3 linked regions of the Homo sapiens genome follow. The protein of the gene in region 2 interacts with the protein of the main gene of each other region in a pairwise test. Each region holds a gene or a part of one and is shown on either strand. Other genes may lie near its edges.

Evidence for each region.
Region 1: the proteins of CCR5 (region 2) and ACKR1 interact in binary tests that used the Homo sapiens proteins (3 or more experiments, as listed by UniProt).
Region 3: the proteins of CCR5 (region 2) and PSMA5 interact in a two-hybrid assay, tested with the Homo sapiens proteins (one study listed by BioGRID).

The regions. Positions count from the first base shown.
Region 1 is NC_000001.11:159,200,188-159,207,023, forward strand, and holds ACKR1 (atypical chemokine receptor 1), read left to right. Parts: upstream 1-4,687; 5' UTR 4,688-4,772; coding exon 4,773-4,793; intron 4,794-5,223; exon of another isoform or gene 5,224-5,246; coding exon of another isoform or gene 5,247-5,273; coding exon 5,274-6,263; 3' UTR 6,264-6,313; downstream 6,314-6,836. Other genes in the region: CADM3 (cell adhesion molecule 3), read left to right, coding at 617-735. UniProt on the Homo sapiens protein: Atypical chemokine receptor that controls chemokine levels and localization via high-affinity chemokine binding that is uncoupled from classic ligand-driven signal transduction cascades, resulting instead in chemokine sequestration, degradation, or transcytosis.
Region 2 is NC_000003.12:46,366,922-46,373,968, forward strand, and holds the start of CCR5 (C-C chemokine receptor type 5), read left to right. Parts: upstream 1-4,024; 5' UTR 4,025-4,067; intron 4,068-4,322; exon of another isoform or gene 4,323-4,496; intron 4,497-5,970; 5' UTR 5,971-5,981; coding exon 5,982-7,040; 3' UTR 7,041-7,047. UniProt on the Homo sapiens protein: Receptor for a number of inflammatory CC-chemokines including CCL3/MIP-1-alpha, CCL4/MIP-1-beta and RANTES and subsequently transduces a signal by increasing the intracellular calcium ion level.
Region 3 is NC_000001.11:109,416,426-109,423,448, reverse strand, and holds part of PSMA5 (proteasome subunit alpha type-5), read left to right. Parts: intron 1-1,522; coding exon 1,523-1,589; intron 1,590-7,023. UniProt on the Homo sapiens protein: Component of the 20S core proteasome complex involved in the proteolytic degradation of most intracellular proteins. This complex plays numerous essential roles within the cell by associating with different regulatory particles.

The sequences.
Region 1 (6,836 bases), on a different chromosome or scaffold from region 2:
AACTGCATCTCCATCTCATTGCTTCCTGCGCTTTCTTCCTTTCTGTCTGTTTAACCTCATTTTCTTTCTCCTTTGATCTCATTGCCTTTCTTTCCTCTCCCCCTTTTCTACCTTCTCTCTTATATCCATGCCTTCTCTCTACCCTCTTCTCACATTCCTTCCTCTCAGACTTCCTGCTCTGCTATTAATTCTAGCCAGCGGCCTGACTCCATAGGCTGGTCATACATAAGCCAGATCTCAATTGCTTTGCTCATGAAGCTGACATAGCAGATCCCCCGTCACCAAGTTGCGTGCACACGCATGCATACACACACACACGCATGCGTGCAAGCACACACACACACACACACACACACACACACACACACTTCTCTTTCTTGCTTTGTATTATAGATGAGATTCTACTTAGGGGTAGGATTCATTATTCATGAAGGGTGTGGTCAGGTGAGGCATGTTGGAAGCAAAATGCGAATTAGGTAAGGTGGAGTAGAAGAGAGCTATTGGCAAGAGAAAAATTACTTGAGCAGTGTGTGAGTGGGTGGGTGAGAAAGTGGGCAGGGTGGACTCAGAGGTTGGGAAGCTGCTCCTGAGAGGAGAAGCCTCTGTCTCTACACAGGAACCTACCTGACACATGAGGCAAAAGGCTCCGACGATGCTCCAGACGCGGACACGGCCATCATCAATGCAGAAGGCGGGCAGTCAGGAGGGGACGACAAGAAGGAATATTTCATCTAGAGGCGCCTGCCCACTTCCTGCGCCCCCCAGGGGCCCTGTGGGGACTGCTGGGGCCGTCACCAACCCGGACTTGTACAGAGCAACCGCAGGGCCGCCCCTCCCGCTTGCTCCCCAGCCCACCCACCCCCCTGTACAGAATGTCTGCTTTGGGTGCGGTTTTGTACTCGGTTTGGAATGGGGAGGGAGGAGGGCGGGGGGAGGGGAGGGTTGCCCTCAGCCCTTTCCGTGGCTTCTCTGCATTTGGGTTATTATTATTTTTGTAACAATCCCAAATCAAATCTGTCTCCAGGCTGGAGAGGCAGGAGCCCTGGGGTGAGAAAAGCAAAAAACAAACAAAAAACAAAACCCTGGAGTGTTAGGAGGAGAGTGAAGGTAGAGGGGTGAGGAAGGGTAAGGGGCAGGGCTGGTTTCAGCTGGGGGCTCTCACCAGCCCTCCTTTCAGCCTCTACAACAGAGCAGCTTCCCAGACTTCTCCAGGAACCCAGAAACGGGATGGTTGTCGGCAAAGGTTGGGAGTGGCTTTTCCTCTGGTAGCCACACACCTGAGCACTACGGACAGGGAGGCAGGTGCCACCTTGACACCTCTCTTCCATAGCAATGGGAAAGTGATGAGTGCGGGAGTCCTGAGGAGATGTGGCCTGCAGACAACATGCAGCCATGCAGGGACCCAGGACTGTAACCTGGGGAGGACGCGGGTCCCTGCAAGGAAGAGTAGATTTGGAGAGGAAGGATGGAGGTGGACTCTCACCCCATTCCCCCCGGAAATGAACAAAGCCGGGCCCTTTCCATAGGAACTGCCCTTGGAGATAGCAGAGTGTGGCTGCCCCTCCTTGCTCCAGCAGCAGTGGGAGAGGCACTGCTCTGGGGCCTGAACTGCCTCTGCTTCCCCCCCTGAGGGGCCCCTCACTCTTACCCAAGACTCTGGATTGTTGCACGGCAACCACTCCTCCCATGGCATTGCTCAGCAACTACTTCTCCCTTCCCGGCCACCCTGTGCCCCCTTCCTGGTCCCAACGCCAGCCCTTCATCCTTCCTCCCTCAGCAGCCAGGCAGACATAACAACAAAACTACTAAAAGGAGCTTCACTGCAGTGAGCTGTTTCCTGCCCAAACTAAGGGAATAATGTGAACTGTGTGCATGTGTGTGGTGTGTATGCATGTGTGCATGTGTGTGTGTGTGTGTGCATGTGTGTGAGTGAGTGAGAGGCAGAGCGAGGAACTGAGGAGGAGGGCTAAGAGCCAGGGGTCCTGGGCAAGTGGACAGGGCTGTGGGACATGTTGGGGAGGCTTTGGGAATGGGGTATTCCTAGTCAGGGTTCACACCTCACCTGGGATGTTGTTCCATGCTGGTATTTCCTCTGCCACCCCCAATGCCCATCGGTCTTGGAGAAAGGAGTCCCCGGGTGTGTGTTTGCCCAGCTGTCCATTCTATCTCTCCCTTAAACACAGAGCATTCAGCCCTTCCCTGGATTTCCCTCCTCTGAGCCATGGAGTCAGTGCCACAGCCTTTGCTATGCACCTCTCAGGCCTCTCCTTGGCGTTGACCCTGGAAAGACCTACCACCACCTATTTTTTCCCATAGTCTGTACCCAGTGAGTTGAAGGCTGGGTCCCCACCCTTCCTTTTGATTTCCTGTCTTCCTTCTCGTGGCCCCAGCTGGTTGCTGTGGAGATGAGGTTCCTGGTCCTCCCTGTCCTGGCTGGACTGCCCCGCCTCAGATCCAGGATGCCCTTGGCATCGCTCCCACCCTCCCCCAGCTTTTCCTCCCTGGTCTGACAATGGGCATGCAAAAAGGGGCAGCTGCAATCTAGCAGGCCTGCCCACCCCCTTCAGTTCAGGTAATACAGTTGTGAATCTTCCAGCCGCTGGTTAGGGCCTTGGGCACCACAGGCAGCCCCTCACCTAAGCCGGGGCCTACTCCTCTTACAACAGCAAGAGAGCCCTGGGGCCCCAGGCCTGTTGAGCTTCTTGTCTCCCAGCACCCGCTTTTGGGAAAATGACTTTTCCTCTTCAAGCTGAACCACTCTGTCCATATTACACAGAAGCCATATTTGTACGGGGGGGTGGGAGGGAGAGGGGCTGTTGTGCTGTGTGTGTCTGTCCAGGGGTGGGGGGGTGGGGGAAGGGAGCAGGGAGGGGACCGTGTATCTTTATAATCTTTCTAACTCTCCTGTGCTAATCTCAGAGGGGTCACCCTCAATATATCTGGATTATCCGTGTCATTCAGCTGCCTCCTTTCTGGTCCTCTTGCTGCTGCTGGGATGTGTGTATGTGAGGGTCTTCTTCCCATACCCCTTGCACCTGGTGCCTGGTGCCTCAAAAGGTGGTGTGTCCCTTGCCAGGCCACTCTCAAGAATATCTATGTACAGCAACAATATAACTCTACAAGGGAGAGAAGTGTGTTCACTTCCTTTTGCTAAGCCCTTCCTTTCCAGAGAGTGTCTTGGGGGGCATCTGACTGCTTCCCCCCACCCTCTGCCAGGCATTGCTGGAGAATGTTAAGACGGCGATGGAGATGCCATCAACCCCACCCTGCAGAGCATCACCAGACACCACCAGACCAAATTCACTTTCCAGCCCCTTCATGTTGAACCTGAAACTTGAGCTAGTGTCTTGGGAGAAAAGGGGGAAATCTCTACGAGGTACCCATCCTTCTGCACCTTAGGTCTGAGGTGCTTGGCCCCCTAGGAAGCCCTACATGAATGGGACAGAAGGTCCTTAACAACACTGGAGATGAAGCAGCCGATGCTGTTTTGGACAAATGAAACAGCGTCCCCTAACCAGCCCTTTCTATCTCATTGTTCTGACTTGGACACGCCATGGCTCACCGCTCCCAAAGTCCCCACTATGTCTCCCTAGCTGAGGAAATAAAAGCAGAGAGGGGTGATGAAACAGTGACGATCCTGGGGAAACAGCTGAGGAGGGGAGGGAGGGGGAAGAAGCCACTAAAAAAGTGAAATGTGCTTGGGAGAATCGGCCTGCCTGCAGGGTAGATGCCCTTTCTCTCTGCTGGCCAGCTCTGCCCCTCAGTGAGAAACTTTACATATTGCTAAGATGCCTGGCCAATGAAACAGTTCCAGAGACTTTATGTCCCCCAGTAGAAATATGAATAGAAATCACCCTGTGGGCAATGGTCCCATTTTAAAATATGCTGTCCCATTGTCCCCTAGAGCCTACTTTAACTTGTCAGACCATGTATTCCACTTCATATGCAAGAGGCATGCACTGAGCCCATAGGTGGCTAGGCAAACACCCAATAGCTCCCTGAAATGGCTTCATTATGCAGCCTCGACAGCCACCCCAACCCTCCCACTCTCACACTGAAACACCCAGACCTAGAGATAGCTAGACACACCCAGACACCCGCCAAGCCCCTCACATACAGATATGTGCACAATGATACACAGCAAACGTACACAGAGTTCAGTACACACAAAGAGCTCACGCCCACGTGCACACACCCCTCAGTTGGGACAGAGTTGACCACCACCACCTTTCTCCCAAACACATGGCTTTTGAACTGCCTTTCCTTGGATCCAGTTCAAGGGGATGGAGGAGCAGTGAGAGTCAGCCGCCCTTCCACTCCAATTTCCCAGCACCTCCCTTATCTCTGCCTCACAAGTCACCCAGCCCCCCTCTCTTCCTTCCTTGTGCTTGAAGAATCTCTCCTTGCTGGAAAGCCCCCTGTTTTCTCAATCTCCCTTTCCACTTCGGTAAAATCTCTACTTGCTGGAAAGCCCCCTGTTTTCTCAATCTCCCTTTCCACTTCGGTAAAATGCCCACTTTCTGGTCCCCACCTTTTTCCTGAGTGTAGTCCCAACCAGCCAAATCCAACCTCAAAACAGGAAGACCCAAGGCCAGTGACCCCCATAGGCCTGAGGCTTGTGCAGGCAGTGGGCGTGGGGTAAGGCTTCCTGATGCCCCCTGTCCCTGCCCAGAACCTGATGGCCCTCATTAGTCCTTGGCTCTTATCTTGGAAGCACAGGCGCTGACAGCCGTCCCAGCCCTTCTGTCTGCGGGCCTGAACCAAACGGTGCCATGGGGAACTGTCTGCACAGGGTGAGTATGGGGCCAGGCCCCAGAGTCCCTTATCCCTATGCCCCTCATTTCCCCTGCTGTTTGCCCCTCAGTCTTTATATCTCTTCCTTTTCCTCCTCATCTTTTCTCCCTTCCTGCTTTTTTCCTCTTCCTTCAAAGTCTTTTTCCTTCTCTCCTTCCTATGCTAGCCTCCTAGCTCCCTCTTGTGTCCCTCCCTTTGCCTTTGAGTCAGTTCCATCCTGGTCTCTTGGTGCCTTTTCCTTCTGACCTTGCACTGCTCCTCCAGCCCCAGCTGCCCTGGCTTCCCCAGGACTGTTCCTGCTCCGGCTCTTCAGGCTCCCTGCTTTGTCCTTTTCCACTGTCCGCACTGCATCTGACTCCTGCAGAGACCTTGTTCTCCCACCCGACCTTCCTCTCTGTCCTCCCCTCCCACCTGCCCCTCAATTCCCAGGAGACTCTTCCGGTGTAACTCTGATGGCCTCCTCTGGGTATGTCCTCCAGGCGGAGCTCTCCCCCTCAACTGAGAACTCAAGTCAGCTGGACTTCGAAGATGTATGGAATTCTTCCTATGGTGTGAATGATTCCTTCCCAGATGGAGACTATGGTGCCAACCTGGAAGCAGCTGCCCCCTGCCACTCCTGTAACCTGCTGGATGACTCTGCACTGCCCTTCTTCATCCTCACCAGTGTCCTGGGTATCCTAGCTAGCAGCACTGTCCTCTTCATGCTTTTCAGACCTCTCTTCCGCTGGCAGCTCTGCCCTGGCTGGCCTGTCCTGGCACAGCTGGCTGTGGGCAGTGCCCTCTTCAGCATTGTGGTGCCCGTCTTGGCCCCAGGGCTAGGTAGCACTCGCAGCTCTGCCCTGTGTAGCCTGGGCTACTGTGTCTGGTATGGCTCAGCCTTTGCCCAGGCTTTGCTGCTAGGGTGCCATGCCTCCCTGGGCCACAGACTGGGTGCAGGCCAGGTCCCAGGCCTCACCCTGGGGCTCACTGTGGGAATTTGGGGAGTGGCTGCCCTACTGACACTGCCTGTCACCCTGGCCAGTGGTGCTTCTGGTGGACTCTGCACCCTGATATACAGCACGGAGCTGAAGGCTTTGCAGGCCACACACACTGTAGCCTGTCTTGCCATCTTTGTCTTGTTGCCATTGGGTTTGTTTGGAGCCAAGGGGCTGAAGAAGGCATTGGGTATGGGGCCAGGCCCCTGGATGAATATCCTGTGGGCCTGGTTTATTTTCTGGTGGCCTCATGGGGTGGTTCTAGGACTGGATTTCCTGGTGAGGTCCAAGCTGTTGCTGTTGTCAACATGTCTGGCCCAGCAGGCTCTGGACCTGCTGCTGAACCTGGCAGAAGCCCTGGCAATTTTGCACTGTGTGGCTACGCCCCTGCTCCTCGCCCTATTCTGCCACCAGGCCACCCGCACCCTCTTGCCCTCTCTGCCCCTCCCTGAAGGATGGTCTTCTCATCTGGACACCCTTGGAAGCAAATCCTAGTTCTCTTCCCACCTGTCAACCTGAATTAAAGTCTACACTGCCTTTGTGAAGCGGGTGGTTTCTTATTTTGTCTGGGGAGAAGAAGGAGAATGGAGAGAGAGACATTTTTATGTCAGACTTTCTTGCCAGTGTCTGCTTCTATAGCTGGCTTGGGAAGAAGGTGAATGATGAATAAATACCCTCAGGGTACACAGATGTTCTCTTGAGGTGTGGGGTCACGGCCATCTCAAGGGAGAAGAGAAGAGGAACCAGAGCATGAGGGGAGTCATTAAACCAAAAAAAACAGAAGGGATGGCTTAGCTGGAAAAAAAGCTGTTCTGGGAAGCAAATGGAATAGGAACTCAAACTGAGAGATAAACAGTGAAGAGTGATGACAAAGCCCAGAGCAATACCACCTCCCCCTGTCCAACCTGCCCAGCCTCTGTCTTCTGTCTCCTCTCTGGCTTTGTTTAGTGATTAGGACAGTGGTGGGGAAGGTGAAAGAAGCATCCCAGGGGATGTTACTCAGTTCAGGGAACATATCAAGGTAATTTAAAAAGCCACTTCCTGGGAGTCATCTCTCCCAGGTTCCTC
Region 2 (7,047 bases):
TGATGGTGACAATCAGTGTGACACTGCTCACATGACTGAACAACCGAGAAGAGCCCGACTGTCTACTGAACAACGGGAAGAGCCCGACTGTCAATGACGGAGCTCTGTTAAATATAGTTAAGGCTATTTTGTTGAATGAATGAAGCCAGACAGGAAAGAGGACAGTATCTTTAATCCATTTATAGAAGTTAAAGACAGGCTTATTTAATCTCTATGAAGACAGAGTGGCCCTTACCTCTGGGTGGAGCAAAAGGCACCTTCTGAAGTGATAGGGATGTTCCTTATCATCTTGATCCGGAGTGGTAGTTACATGCATGTGTGCATATCAAAACTCACCAAGCTGTACCACTAAGTGTGTTCTTCCTCAATAAAAATAATAAAGAACTACACTTATAAAGAATTTTTTAATAATATAGGAAAATGTCTACACTATAATCTTTAGCTAAAAAAAAAAAAAAAAGAAGCCGCCTACAGAATGGTATATGCATGAGAACAATTAATCGAAAAGTGCATGGGAAAAGTCAGGATTGAAACATCATGTTTTAAAAGACATTGTTTTGATACTGTGAGAATGTACCTAAGTTTTTCCTTTTTTCTGTTTTTCCCAATTTTATACAATGAGCATGTGTTGGTTTTATAATTAGACATTTTGTTTGTTTGGTTTGGTTTTGAGACACAGCTTGCTGTCACCCAGGTTGGAGTGCAATGGCCCAATCTTGGTTCACTGCAACCTCCATCTCCTGGGTTCAAGAGATTCTCCCACTTCAGCCTCCTGAGTAGCTGGGACTATAGGGGCGCACCACCACATCCAGCTAATTTTGTGTATTTTTAGTAGAGATGGGGTTTCACCATGCTGGCCAGGTTGGTCTCAAACTCCTGACCTCAAGTTATCCACTCGCCTTGGCTTCCCAAAGTGCTGGGATTATAGGCATGAGCCACCGCACTTGGCCTAGACATTTGTTTTTAAAAATAAAAGATTCATTTGCTCTTTTTACAGCCCGTCTCACTGTTGACTGATATTGACCAGGAGTCAACTCAGGCCCCAGGGATTTTCACAACAGCTGCTGTATGGCAGGGTTTCTGCTCACTGTGCTCATGTAGTTGGCCCTTGCACCCAAAGTGAATAATTAACATTCTCCCCATCCTGTTGACGATGCTCTGAAAATATGGTCCAGAAATGGTGTGAGCAAGGAGACAGCAAAGCAATGCTTGGAACATAGGTGCAGTGACTAGACATGGGGCAGCTGTTTAAAGACAAAAAGGCCCCAAAAAGGAGGGATGGCACGAAACACCCTCCAATATGGGCATGGAGTCTAGAGTGACAAAGTGATCAAAAGTTCATTTCCTATGGGGTGTCCGAATGTACTTAATAATAAAAAGAGAACAAGAGCCATGCAAACTGAGAGGGACAAAGTAGAAAGAGTAGCAGACACCAAGCAACTAAGTCACAGCATGATAAGCTGCTAGCTTGTTGTCATTATTGTATCCAGAACAACATTTCATTTAAATGCTGAAGAATTTCCCATGGGTCCCCACTTTCTTGTGAATCCTTGGGCTGAACCCCCCTGTCCTGAGTGGTTACTAGAACACACCTCTGGACCAGAAACACAAAAGTGGAGTAACGCACACTGCAAAGCTGTGCTTCCTTGTTTCAGCCTGTGAATCCTCACCTTGTTTCCCATCTAGCCTATATTTTTCAAACTAACTTGGCCATAGAATCATGTAGTATTTAGGGTGGAAGCTGCCCCAGGTCTAGCACGTCATTTAACAGATGAGGAAATGGAAGCTTGGGCAGTGGAAGTATCTTGCCGAGGTCACACAGCAAGTCAGCAGCACAGCGTGTGTGACTCCGAGCCTGCTCCGCTAGCCCACATTGCCCTCTGGGGGTGAGTATGTCTTCACATCCTCCAATACCCTAATGACAGACAAACAGAACATGGCAAAGCCTCAGCTCTGCATGGTGAAAGTAAGAACCAGCAATTGCCACAAACAGAAATACAGTGTTGGTCCGGCAGCCTCCGGGGGTTCTGCACAAGTGGATTACCAGTGAATACAAGGCTATCTATCTTTCGAAAAACCAAAGTTGTATTTATGCTATCTATTTTCTATAAAATTTTATATTAATTTATTTGTTACCTATTTTTGAACTCTTTCAAAAGCACACTTTATATTTCCCTGCTTAAACAGTCCCCCGAGGGTGGGTGCCCAAAAGGCTCTACACTTGTTATCATTCCCTCTCCACCACAGGCATATTGAGTAAGTTTGTATTTGGGTTTTTTTAAAACCTCCACTCTACAGTTAAGAAAACTAAGGCACAGAGCTTCAATAATTTGGTCAGAGCCAAGTAGCAGTAATGAAGCTGGAGGTTAAACCCAGCAGCATGACTGCAGTTCTTAATCAATGCCTTTTGAATTGCACATATGGGATGAACTAGAACATTTTCTCGATGATTCGCTGTCCTTGTTATGATTATGTTACTGAGCTCTGTTGTAGCACAGACATATGTCCCTATATGGGGCGGGGGTGGGGGTGTCTTGATCGCTGGGCTATTTCTATACTGTTCTGGCTTTTCCCAAGCAGTCATTTCTTTCTATTCTCCAAGCACCAGCAATTAGCTTTACCTTTTCAGCTTCTAGTTTGCTGAAACTAATCTGCTATAGACAGAGACTCCGGTGAACCAATTTTATTAGGATTTGATCAAATAAACTCTCTCTGACAAAGGACTGCTGAAAGAGTAACTAAGAGTTTGATGTTTACTGAGTGCATAGTATGTGCTAGATGCTGGCCGTGGATGCCTCATAGAATCCTCCCAACAACTCATGAAATGACTACTGTCATTCAGCCCAATACCCAGACGAGAAAGCTGAGGGTAAGACAGGTTTCAAGCTTGGCAGTCTGACTACAGAGGCCACTGGCTTAGCCCCTGGGTTAGTCTGCCTCTGTAGGATTGGGGGCACGTAATTTTGCTGTTTGGGGTCTCATTTGCCTTCTTAGAGATCACAAGCCAAAGCTTTTTATTCTAGAGCCAAGGTCACGGAAGCCCAGAGGGCATCTTGTGGCTCGGGAGTAGCTCTCTGCTGTCTTCTCAGCTCTGCTGACAATACTTGAGATTTTCAGATGTCACCAACCGCCAAGAGAGCTTGATATGACTGTATATAGTATAGTCATAAAGAACCTGAACTTGACCATATACTTATGTCATGTGGAAAATTTCTCATAGCTTCAGATAGATTATATCTGGAGTGAAGAATCCTGCCACCTATGTATCTGGCATAGTGTGAGTCCTCATAAATGCTTACTGGTTTGAAGGGCAACAAAATAGTGAACAGAGTGAAAATCCCCACTAAGATCCTGGGTCCAGAAAAAGATGGGAAACCTGTTTAGCTCACCCGTGAGCCCATAGTTAAAACTCTTTAGACAACAGGTTGTTTCCGTTTACAGAGAACAATAATATTGGGTGGTGAGCATCTGTGTGGGGGTTGGGGTGGGATAGGGGATACGGGGAGAGTGGAGAAAAAGGGGACACAGGGTTAATGTGAAGTCCAGGATCCCCCTCTACATTTAAAGTTGGTTTAAGTTGGCTTTAATTAATAGCAACTCTTAAGATAATCAGAATTTTCTTAACCTTTTAGCCTTACTGTTGAAAAGCCCTGTGATCTTGTACAAATCATTTGCTTCTTGGATAGTAATTTCTTTTACTAAAATGTGGGCTTTTGACTAGATGAATGTAAATGTTCTTCTAGCTCTGATATCCTTTATTCTTTATATTTTCTAACAGATTCTGTGTAGTGGGATGAGCAGAGAACAAAAACAAAATAATCCAGTGAGAAAAGCCCGTAAATAAACCTTCAGACCAGAGATCTATTCTCTAGCTTATTTTAAGCTCAACTTAAAAAGAAGAACTGTTCTCTGATTCTTTTCGCCTTCAATACACTTAATGATTTAACTCCACCCTCCTTCAAAAGAAACAGCATTTCCTACTTTTATACTGTCTATATGATTGATTTGCACAGCTCATCTGGCCAGAAGAGCTGAGACATCCGTTCCCCTACAAGAAACTCTCCCCGGTAAGTAACCTCTCAGCTGCTTGGCCTGTTAGTTAGCTTCTGAGATGAGTAAAAGACTTTACAGGAAACCCATAGAAGACATTTGGCAAACACCAAGTGCTCATACAATTATCTTAAAATATAATCTTTAAGATAAGGAAAGGGTCACAGTTTGGAATGAGTTTCAGACGGTTATAACATCAAAGATACAAAACATGATTGTGAGTGAAAGACTTTAAAGGGAGCAATAGTATTTTAATAACTAACAATCCTTACCTCTCAAAAGAAAGATTTGCAGAGAGATGAGTCTTAGCTGAAATCTTGAAATCTTATCTTCTGCTAAGGAGAACTAAACCCTCTCCAGTGAGATGCCTTCTGAATATGTGCCCACAAGAAGTTGTGTCTAAGTCTGGTTCTCTTTTTTCTTTTTCCTCCAGACAAGAGGGAAGCCTAAAAATGGTCAAAATTAATATTAAATTACAAACGCCAAATAAAATTTTCCTCTAATATATCAGTTTCATGGCACAGTTAGTATATAATTCTTTATGGTTCAAAATTAAAAATGAGCTTTTCTAGGGGCTTCTCTCAGCTGCCTAGTCTAAGGTGCAGGGAGTTTGAGACTCACAGGGTTTAATAAGAGAAAATTCTCAGCTAGAGCAGCTGAACTTAAATAGACTAGGCAAGACAGCTGGTTATAAGACTAAACTACCCAGAATGCATGACATTCATCTGTGGTGGCAGACGAAACATTTTTTATTATATTATTTCTTGGGTATGTATGACAACTCTTAATTGTGGCAACTCAGAAACTACAAACACAAACTTCACAGAAAATGTGAGGATTTTACAATTGGCTGTTGTCATCTATGACCTTCCCTGGGACTTGGGCACCCGGCCATTTCACTCTGACTACATCATGTCACCAAACATCTGATGGTCTTGCCTTTTAATTCTCTTTTCGAGGACTGAGAGGGAGGGTAGCATGGTAGTTAAGAGTGCAGGCTTCCCGCATTCAAAATCGGTTGCTTACTAGCTGTGTGGCTTTGAGCAAGTTACTCACCCTCTCTGTGCTTCAAGGTCCTTGTCTGCAAAATGTGAAAAATATTTCCTGCCTCATAAGGTTGCCCTAAGGATTAAATGAATGAATGGGTATGATGCTTAGAACAGTGATTGGCATCCAGTATGTGCCCTCGAGGCCTCTTAATTATTACTGGCTTGCTCATAGTGCATGTTCTTTGTGGGCTAACTCTAGCGTCAATAAAAATGTTAAGACTGAGTTGCAGCCGGGCATGGTGGCTCATGCCTGTAATCCCAGCATTCTAGGAGGCTGAGGCAGGAGGATCGCTTGAGCCCAGGAGTTCGAGACCAGCCTGGGCAACATAGTGTGATCTTGTATCTATAAAAATAAACAAAATTAGCTTGGTGTGGTGGCGCCTGTAGTCCCCAGCCACTTGGAGGGGTGAGGTGAGAGGATTGCTTGAGCCCGGGATGGTCCAGGCTGCAGTGAGCCATGATCGTGCCACTGCACTCCAGCCTGGGCGACAGAGTGAGACCCTGTCTCACAACAACAACAACAACAACAAAAAGGCTGAGCTGCACCATGCTTGACCCAGTTTCTTAAAATTGTTGTCAAAGCTTCATTCACTCCATGGTGCTATAGAGCACAAGATTTTATTTGGTGAGATGGTGCTTTCATGAATTCCCCCAACAGAGCCAAGCTCTCCATCTAGTGGACAGGGAAGCTAGCAGCAAACCTTCCCTTCACTACAAAACTTCATTGCTTGGCCAAAAAGAGAGTTAATTCAATGTAGACATCTATGTAGGCAATTAAAAACCTATTGATGTATAAAACAGTTTGCATTCATGGAGGGCAACTAAATACATTCTAGGACTTTATAAAAGATCACTTTTTATTTATGCACAGGGTGGAACAAGATGGATTATCAAGTGTCAAGTCCAATCTATGACATCAATTATTATACATCGGAGCCCTGCCAAAAAATCAATGTGAAGCAAATCGCAGCCCGCCTCCTGCCTCCGCTCTACTCACTGGTGTTCATCTTTGGTTTTGTGGGCAACATGCTGGTCATCCTCATCCTGATAAACTGCAAAAGGCTGAAGAGCATGACTGACATCTACCTGCTCAACCTGGCCATCTCTGACCTGTTTTTCCTTCTTACTGTCCCCTTCTGGGCTCACTATGCTGCCGCCCAGTGGGACTTTGGAAATACAATGTGTCAACTCTTGACAGGGCTCTATTTTATAGGCTTCTTCTCTGGAATCTTCTTCATCATCCTCCTGACAATCGATAGGTACCTGGCTGTCGTCCATGCTGTGTTTGCTTTAAAAGCCAGGACGGTCACCTTTGGGGTGGTGACAAGTGTGATCACTTGGGTGGTGGCTGTGTTTGCGTCTCTCCCAGGAATCATCTTTACCAGATCTCAAAAAGAAGGTCTTCATTACACCTGCAGCTCTCATTTTCCATACAGTCAGTATCAATTCTGGAAGAATTTCCAGACATTAAAGATAGTCATCTTGGGGCTGGTCCTGCCGCTGCTTGTCATGGTCATCTGCTACTCGGGAATCCTAAAAACTCTGCTTCGGTGTCGAAATGAGAAGAAGAGGCACAGGGCTGTGAGGCTTATCTTCACCATCATGATTGTTTATTTTCTCTTCTGGGCTCCCTACAACATTGTCCTTCTCCTGAACACCTTCCAGGAATTCTTTGGCCTGAATAATTGCAGTAGCTCTAACAGGTTGGACCAAGCTATGCAGGTGACAGAGACTCTTGGGATGACGCACTGCTGCATCAACCCCATCATCTATGCCTTTGTCGGGGAGAAGTTCAGAAACTACCTCTTAGTCTTCTTCCAAAAGCACATTGCCAAACGCTTCTGCAAATGCTGTTCTATTTTCCAGCAAGAGGCTCCCGAGCGAGCAAGCTCAGTTTACACCCGATCCACTGGGGAGCAGGAAATATCTGTGGGCTTGTGACACGGAC
Region 3 (7,023 bases), on a different chromosome or scaffold from region 2:
GAGATTTGGAAGTAACTTGTGCTTAGCACTCTCCCAGGCTGGAGTGTAGTGGCACCATCTCGGCTCACTGCAACCTCCGCCTCCTGGGTTCAAGTGATTCTCATGCCTTAGCCTCTCAAGTAGCTGGGATTACAGGCACCTGCCACCACGCCCAGCTAATTTATGTGTTTTTAGTAGAGACGGGGTTTCACCTTGTTGGCCAGCCTGGTCTCGAACTCCTGACCTCAGGTGATCCGCCTGCCTCATCCTCCCAACGTGCTGGGATTACAGGCGTGAGCCACCACGCCAGGCCAAAAGCACTACTATATGACATGTTACCTGTTGTAAAGTCTGGACTCCATAAACCACGGATTGCAACCATCTCATTCATTTGTTCACATATTTTTTGTGTCCATTGTGTGCTCAAAGCTTTTATAGCTGAGACCATGATTGGTGCCTCTTCTCCGTAGGGATTTCCAGCACACTTGAGCAAGGAAAGGTGGAAAGTGTTAAGTGTTAAGGGGAAGTGTTTAGAGAGGAAAGCAGTCTGACATGTAAGTTATATAAATATTGAGTGAATGAACTAGGTTAGAATTAGGAACTACATGGATCTCAGTCTGTTAAGATAACAATAGTAATTCATACAAATAAGTAGAGAAATGTACCTGTGACTAACTTTTAGTAAAAAGTAATAATTAGGCCCAGGCACAGTGGTTCATGCCTGTAATCCCAGCATTTTGGGAGGCCGAGGCGGGTGGATCACGAGGTCAGGAGTTCAAGACCAGCCTGGCCAATATGGTGAAACCCCATCTCTACTAAAAATACAAAAATTAGCCGGGCGTGGTGGCATGCACCTGTAGTCTTAGCTGCTGGGGAGGCTGAGGCAGGATAACTGCTTGAACCCAGGAGGCGGAGGTTACAGTGAGCTGAGATCGCACCCGCCTGAGCGACAGAGCGAGACTCTGTCTCAAAAAAAAAAAAAAAAAAGTAATAACTGTGTTTTATAGAGATTGTCTGAATTAGGGGGAAAACTCTTCCTACTTGCTCCACGAGTCAATACCTGTTAGGAGACTATTACAAACGTTAGGTGAAAGGTAATGAGGGCATTGAGAATGGAAAGAAGAGTGATAACCCCAAGTATTAACGTCATATGCATGTTATGGGAAGAGGATAAGGAAAAATGCACATTTTCTTGGAAATTGGCTGATAGTTTTGAGGCATGAACTTACCAAAGGAACTGGTAAGTCTATTCAGAATGGATCCAAGTTGATTCAGGATTGAGGCAGAAAAGTCATTTGCTCTCATTTCATCAATTTGGGAAGACTTTCTGGGAGTGAGGCAGAAGTGTTCTATATATAGGTTCCATTGCCTTGAGAAACTGTTAATGTACAAAAAAATGCTACAGATTGTTGTGGGCGAAGTAGAGAATAATGACAATGTGCGTATTCTGTAGCTATCTGAGCTAGTTGTCAAGGAACTTGAATTCAGTGTCTACATGGCTAGTTTTTATGAGTATAATTAATAATTTTTTTTTAAATTATAGGGGCGTGAATACTTTTTCTCCCGAAGGAAGATTATTTCAAGTGGAATATGCCATTGAGGCTATCAAGGTATAGTAGCAAGTAGCATAGGTCCTGAAATTTCATGGCTACCTAACATTTTGCTGGCAGAACACTTGGAGTAAATGTGGTTTAACCATTCCTTTAGAAAATGTTCTTATATCCCTTTAAGCAACCACTGTTAACCATTTTTATAACAGTTTCAATCCTATTCCTAATATCTATTTTAAAACTTTTTGAGCAGTTAACTGCTTCATAATTATCTAAATAGCTTTTTCTCAGTGGGGGTGGAGGGACATATTTGTGCTTTTGATCCTCTTAGCTATAAAGAGAGGTACAGAAGTCCAGAATTAGCACCTGTATTACTTTTTCTGTTTTGTTTTCTTTAGCAAATCATGTATCTGACCACCTTTGTATTCTTTCTTTTTCTTTCTTTTTTTTTTTTTTTGAGATGGAGTCTCTCTCAGTTGCCCAGGCTGGAGTTCAGTGGCGTGATCTCAGCTTACTGCAACCTCCGCCCCTCGGGTTCAAGTGATTTTCCTGCCTCAGCCTCCCAGTACCACCAGGCTGGTCTCGAACCCCTGACCTCAAATGATTCGCCCATCTCAGCCTCCCAAAGTGCTGGGATTACAGGCGTGAGCCACCACGCACAGCCCACCTTTGTGTTCTTGTTGGTAAAGTCACCTTAGGGACTAAATAAGAGATTTGTTTTAGTGGTTTTTTAGAGACAGGGTCTCACTCTGTCACCCATGCTGGAGTACAGTGACACCATCTTAGCTCACTGCAGCTTCTAACTCCTGGGCTCAAGCTTTCCTCCCACCTTAACCTCCCTAGCAGCTAGGGTACAGATGTGTGCACCATGCCTGGCTAATTTTTTTTTTTTTTTTTTTTTGGTAGAGATGTGGTCTTGCTATGTTGCCCAAGTTGGTCTCAAACTCCTGGGCTCAAGTGATCCTCCTGCCTCAGCCTCTCAAAGTGTTGGGATTTACAGGTGTGAGCCACCACACCTGGCGTGGACTGGATAATTCTTTGTTGTGGAGGGCCATCTTGTACATTTTAGCATGTTTATCAATTCCTGGGTACTACCCATTAGGTGCCAGTAGCACTCTTTCAGTTGTGACCATCAAAAATGTCTCCAGACTTTGCCAAATGTCTGGTGGGGACAAAAGGGCCCCCAATTGAGAATCACTCTTCTAGATAAAAAGTATATATGAATTCTGTCCTACTCTGTTCAGTTAGGGATTCAAGATCAGTATACTATACATAAAACAATTAGAGAACAACTAAGTGCTAAATTAAGTTTTCTGGCAATGGTTTCTGATTATATATTTGTTTGATTTTTAAGGTATACATGCATGTAGTTTCAGAGTTAGAAGGCAAAGTAGTTCTATAAACCTTGTAACAAAAATAGCAATTCTTGAGGCCTGCATCATCTAGGTTCAGCTTTTCAGAGGCAACACTTTAAATTGTTTCAGCTGGTAATGTTCTAGGACTGTACCTCCATATCTCTATAACACAGATGTATGGTTTTTTTTTATTAGGCATTATCCATGGACTTTTCATTATGAAAGATGAAGATTTCTGCCCTAACCCCACACCCCTACTCCCCACCACACACAATTGTCTTCTGAGGTGGGGATAGGGTGACCCTCTCCATATATATCATGAATATCATAATTTTGTAAGATCATTAGTCAATAGTTACATTAGTATAACTAAATGCTTTTCACAGCTGAGCCATTTTGCATTTTATAATTATTTTTCTGTTTCTGCACAACATTGTTTTTCTTGGAGTTAATAATTCTCTTTTTAAAAATATTTGCTTAATTTAGGATGATCAATAATGCATTCCAAAGTCTCTCCAGGTTACATGTATCCTCTCAAAACATTCAGGCAAATTAAGTGTCCTATTAAGGATTCCTTTTTTTTTTTTTTTTTGAGACAGAGTCTTGCTCTGTCACCCAGGCTAGAATGCAGTGGCGCATCTCAGGTCACTGCAGCCTCAACCTACCAGGCTCAAGTGATCCTCCCGCCTCAGCCCCCAAAGTAGCCGGGACTACAGCTATGCACAACCATGCGCGGCTTGTTTTTTTTTTTTTTTTTTTTTTTTTTGAGACGGAGTCTCACTCTCTCACCCAGGCTGGAGTGCAGTGGCGCTATCTCAGCCCACTGCAACCTCTGCCTCCCAGGTTCAAGCAATTCTCCTGCCTCAGCCTCCTGAATAGCTGGGATTACAGGCGCGTGCCACCACACCTAATTTTTGTATTTTTAGTAGAGATGGTGTTTCACCATATCGGTCAGGCTGGTCTCGAACTCCTGACCCTGTGATCCACCTGCCTCTGCCTCCCAGAGTGCTGGGATTACAGATGTGAGCCACCGCGCCTGGCCTAAGTTTTTGTATTTTTTGTAGAGACGGGGTTTCGCTGTGTTGCACAGGCTGGTCTCGAGCTCCTGAGCTCAAGTGATCCGCCCACCTAGGCCTCCCAAAGTGTTGGAATTACAGGTATGAGCCACAGTGCCCTATTAAGGATTCTTAATGAAATCTTGGAGCCTTCTAATCTGCTCCAGTCTGGACTGGTTGTTCTCTGGGCCTCCTGTGTACCTGTGGACTTCATTTTCTGTGAGATCATTCTAGGCATTCCCTTTAACTCCCTCTTGTGTAAGGCCCCATGTCATCTTTTTTGATTTATTTGCTCAATTTGGTAGAACCCATTTTCCAGTAGTATTGTAGAAACTATTTATTTATTTATTTATTTTGAGGTGGAGTTTTGCTCTTGTTGCCCAGGCTGGAGTGCAATGGCGTGATCTCGGCTCACTGCAACCTCCGCCTCCCGTGTTCAAGCGATTCTCCTGCCTCAGCCTCCTGAGTAGCTGGGATTACAGGCATGCGCCACCACGCTGGCTAATTTTGCATTTTTAGTAGAGACGGGGTTTGTCCATGTTGGTCAGGCTAGTCTTGAGCTCCTGACCTCAGGTGATCTGCCCGCCTCACCCTCCCAAATTGCTGGGATTATAGGCATGAGCCACCGTGTTTGGCCAGAAATAATTTTTAATTTTCAACTTCTTTTGTTTCTTTTCTTCTTATTAGCATCCCGTTCTTGTTTTATGGATGAAATGTCTTGTTTTTCTTCAACAATTTTCTAATTTTTCTTGAAAATTTTTTTCCTTGTGGACATTGTTGCTCATCCCTATAATCTCAGTACTTTGGGAGGCTGAGGGAGGAGAATCACTTGAGCCTAGGAGTTCAAGACTAGCCTGGGCAACATAGCCCGTGTCTAGAAAAAATTTAAAAAATTAGGCTGGGCAAGGCTCACACCTGTAATCCTAGCACTTTGGGACGCTGAGGCAGGAGGACTGCTTGAGTCTAGAAGTTCAAGACCAGCCTGAGCAACATAGTGAGACTTTGTCTTCACAAAAAATTTAAAAAATTAGTTGAGTGTAGTAGTGTACACCTGTAGTCTTAGCTATTTTGCAGGCTTAGGTGGGAAGATCTCGTGAGCCTGGGAGGTTGGGGCTCCATGAGACGTGATTGTGCCACTGCACTCCATCGTGGGCAACAGAGTGAGACCCTGTCTAAAATATTTTTTTTTCCTTTTGAACTGGTCAGATTGTTTAGAGCTATGTTTTTCAAACTGCAGGTCTAGACCTATTAGGAGATAATAAAATAAATTTAGTGGTCATGAGGAGCATTTCTTTTGAGACAGAATGTCACTCTGTCACCTAGACTGGAGTGCAGTGGTACGATCACAGCTCACTGCAGCCTCAACCTCCCAGGCTCAAGTGATCCTCCCACCTCAGCCCCCAGCTACAGGCACATGCCACCACACCCAGTTATTTTTTTTTATTTTTTGTGGAGGTAAAGTTTTGCCATGTTGCCCAGGCTGGTCTCAAACTCCTGGGCTCAAGTGATCTTCCTGCCTCAGCCTCCCAAAGTGTTGTGATTATAGGCATGAGCCACCACTCCTGGCCCACATTTCTTTTTTAAGTGAAACAGAGCAGTAGATATCAAAATGCCTTGCCCATAGTAGTGATGAGTGGTTTTTTTCCTGAAATTTTGTTTCTGTTATGTATTTATATTTATTTGTGGGTTTTAGTTATGAAATCAAATGTATTCCTTACTGTGGCTTTTGGTCAAAAAGTTTGAAAAACATTGCTCAGGAGAAAACTGCCTCTTCTCATTTCATTCCGGGAGGGTATTTCTGGCTGCTGGCTTCTGAGAGCTGAGTAGGGAAAGAAGGCTGAGGTTCTTAACATTTGGTTTGGAAATTTTTACATATTTATCCCGTTTTCAGTACATTATTCCTGCCTTAGACTGTGCTTGGTGTCCCCAATCCAAAGACGCTCTATTTTACGGTCTCCAGAGAATAAGCCTGGAGTCTTCCACGGGAGTGGGGGAGGTGCAGTCGTCTAGCTTTACAGCATAGGGGAGGGGATCCGGGAATCTGTTTCTTAAACATTGAACCACCTTGCAATTTTTAGCTCCTTGTTCATTTCCATTTCCAGAGGTCCTTGTTGCCACCATTTCCTTTTTTGAGGTCCTGTGATAAAAATCAGGTTGTTTCTTTACTTTCTTTACGGCTGGTTTAGGATTTGGATTACCCAGGTATCACTAACCTATCTTCTTTTTAGCTTCAAAGTTTTGTTGCTGTGTCTTCTCCCACTCTCTGTTATAGTGGATTTATGCCTTTTTAGAAGTCCTTTAATCTTACATCAATAGACTTAAGGAAGGCGTGGAACTAATGTTATGTCTTTAGTCTGCACCTTTAACTAGAAATATGAGCATTCATTTTTATTTATTTATTTTTTGAGATGGGGTCTCACTCTGTTGTCCAGGCTGGAATGCAATGGCGTGATCTTGGCTCACTACAACCTCTGCCTCCCGGGCTCAAGCAGTCCTACCGTTTCAGCCTTCCGCGTAGCTGGGAGTACAGGCATACGCCACCAAGCCTGGCTAATTATTGTATTTTTTATAGAAACAGGGTTTCACCATGTTGCCCAGGCTGGTCTTGAACTCCTGGACTCATGCAATCTGCCCACCTCAGCCTCCCAAAGTGCTGGGATTACAGGCATGAGCCACCATGCCCAACCTGAGTACTCATTTTTTTACATAAAATTTTTTGACAGTTCATCTCCTGTAGTTATGCAGGTATCCACTGATTAAGAAAATACATGACAAAAAGCTGGTGTACATTTAATAACACTTCTAAATAAAGTCACAACTCAACACATTTGAAAAATAATATATATGCGTGTGAAATGATCATTCAGTCTGCAGACATGTTAAGCAAGTTATACATAAAGATTCGTGGGATTCTTTGGAACTCTTTGCAGTGCTCACACTTGGCAGTGATTACTTTGTAGAAATAACTAAATATAATGGAATTCAAAGCAGAAAGCATAGTCATGGAAGGCTTTGATGAGTGGAATTTGGATTGGGGGAAGGAAGAATGTATTCCAGGGGAGACAGCATGAGCAGAGGGGTGCA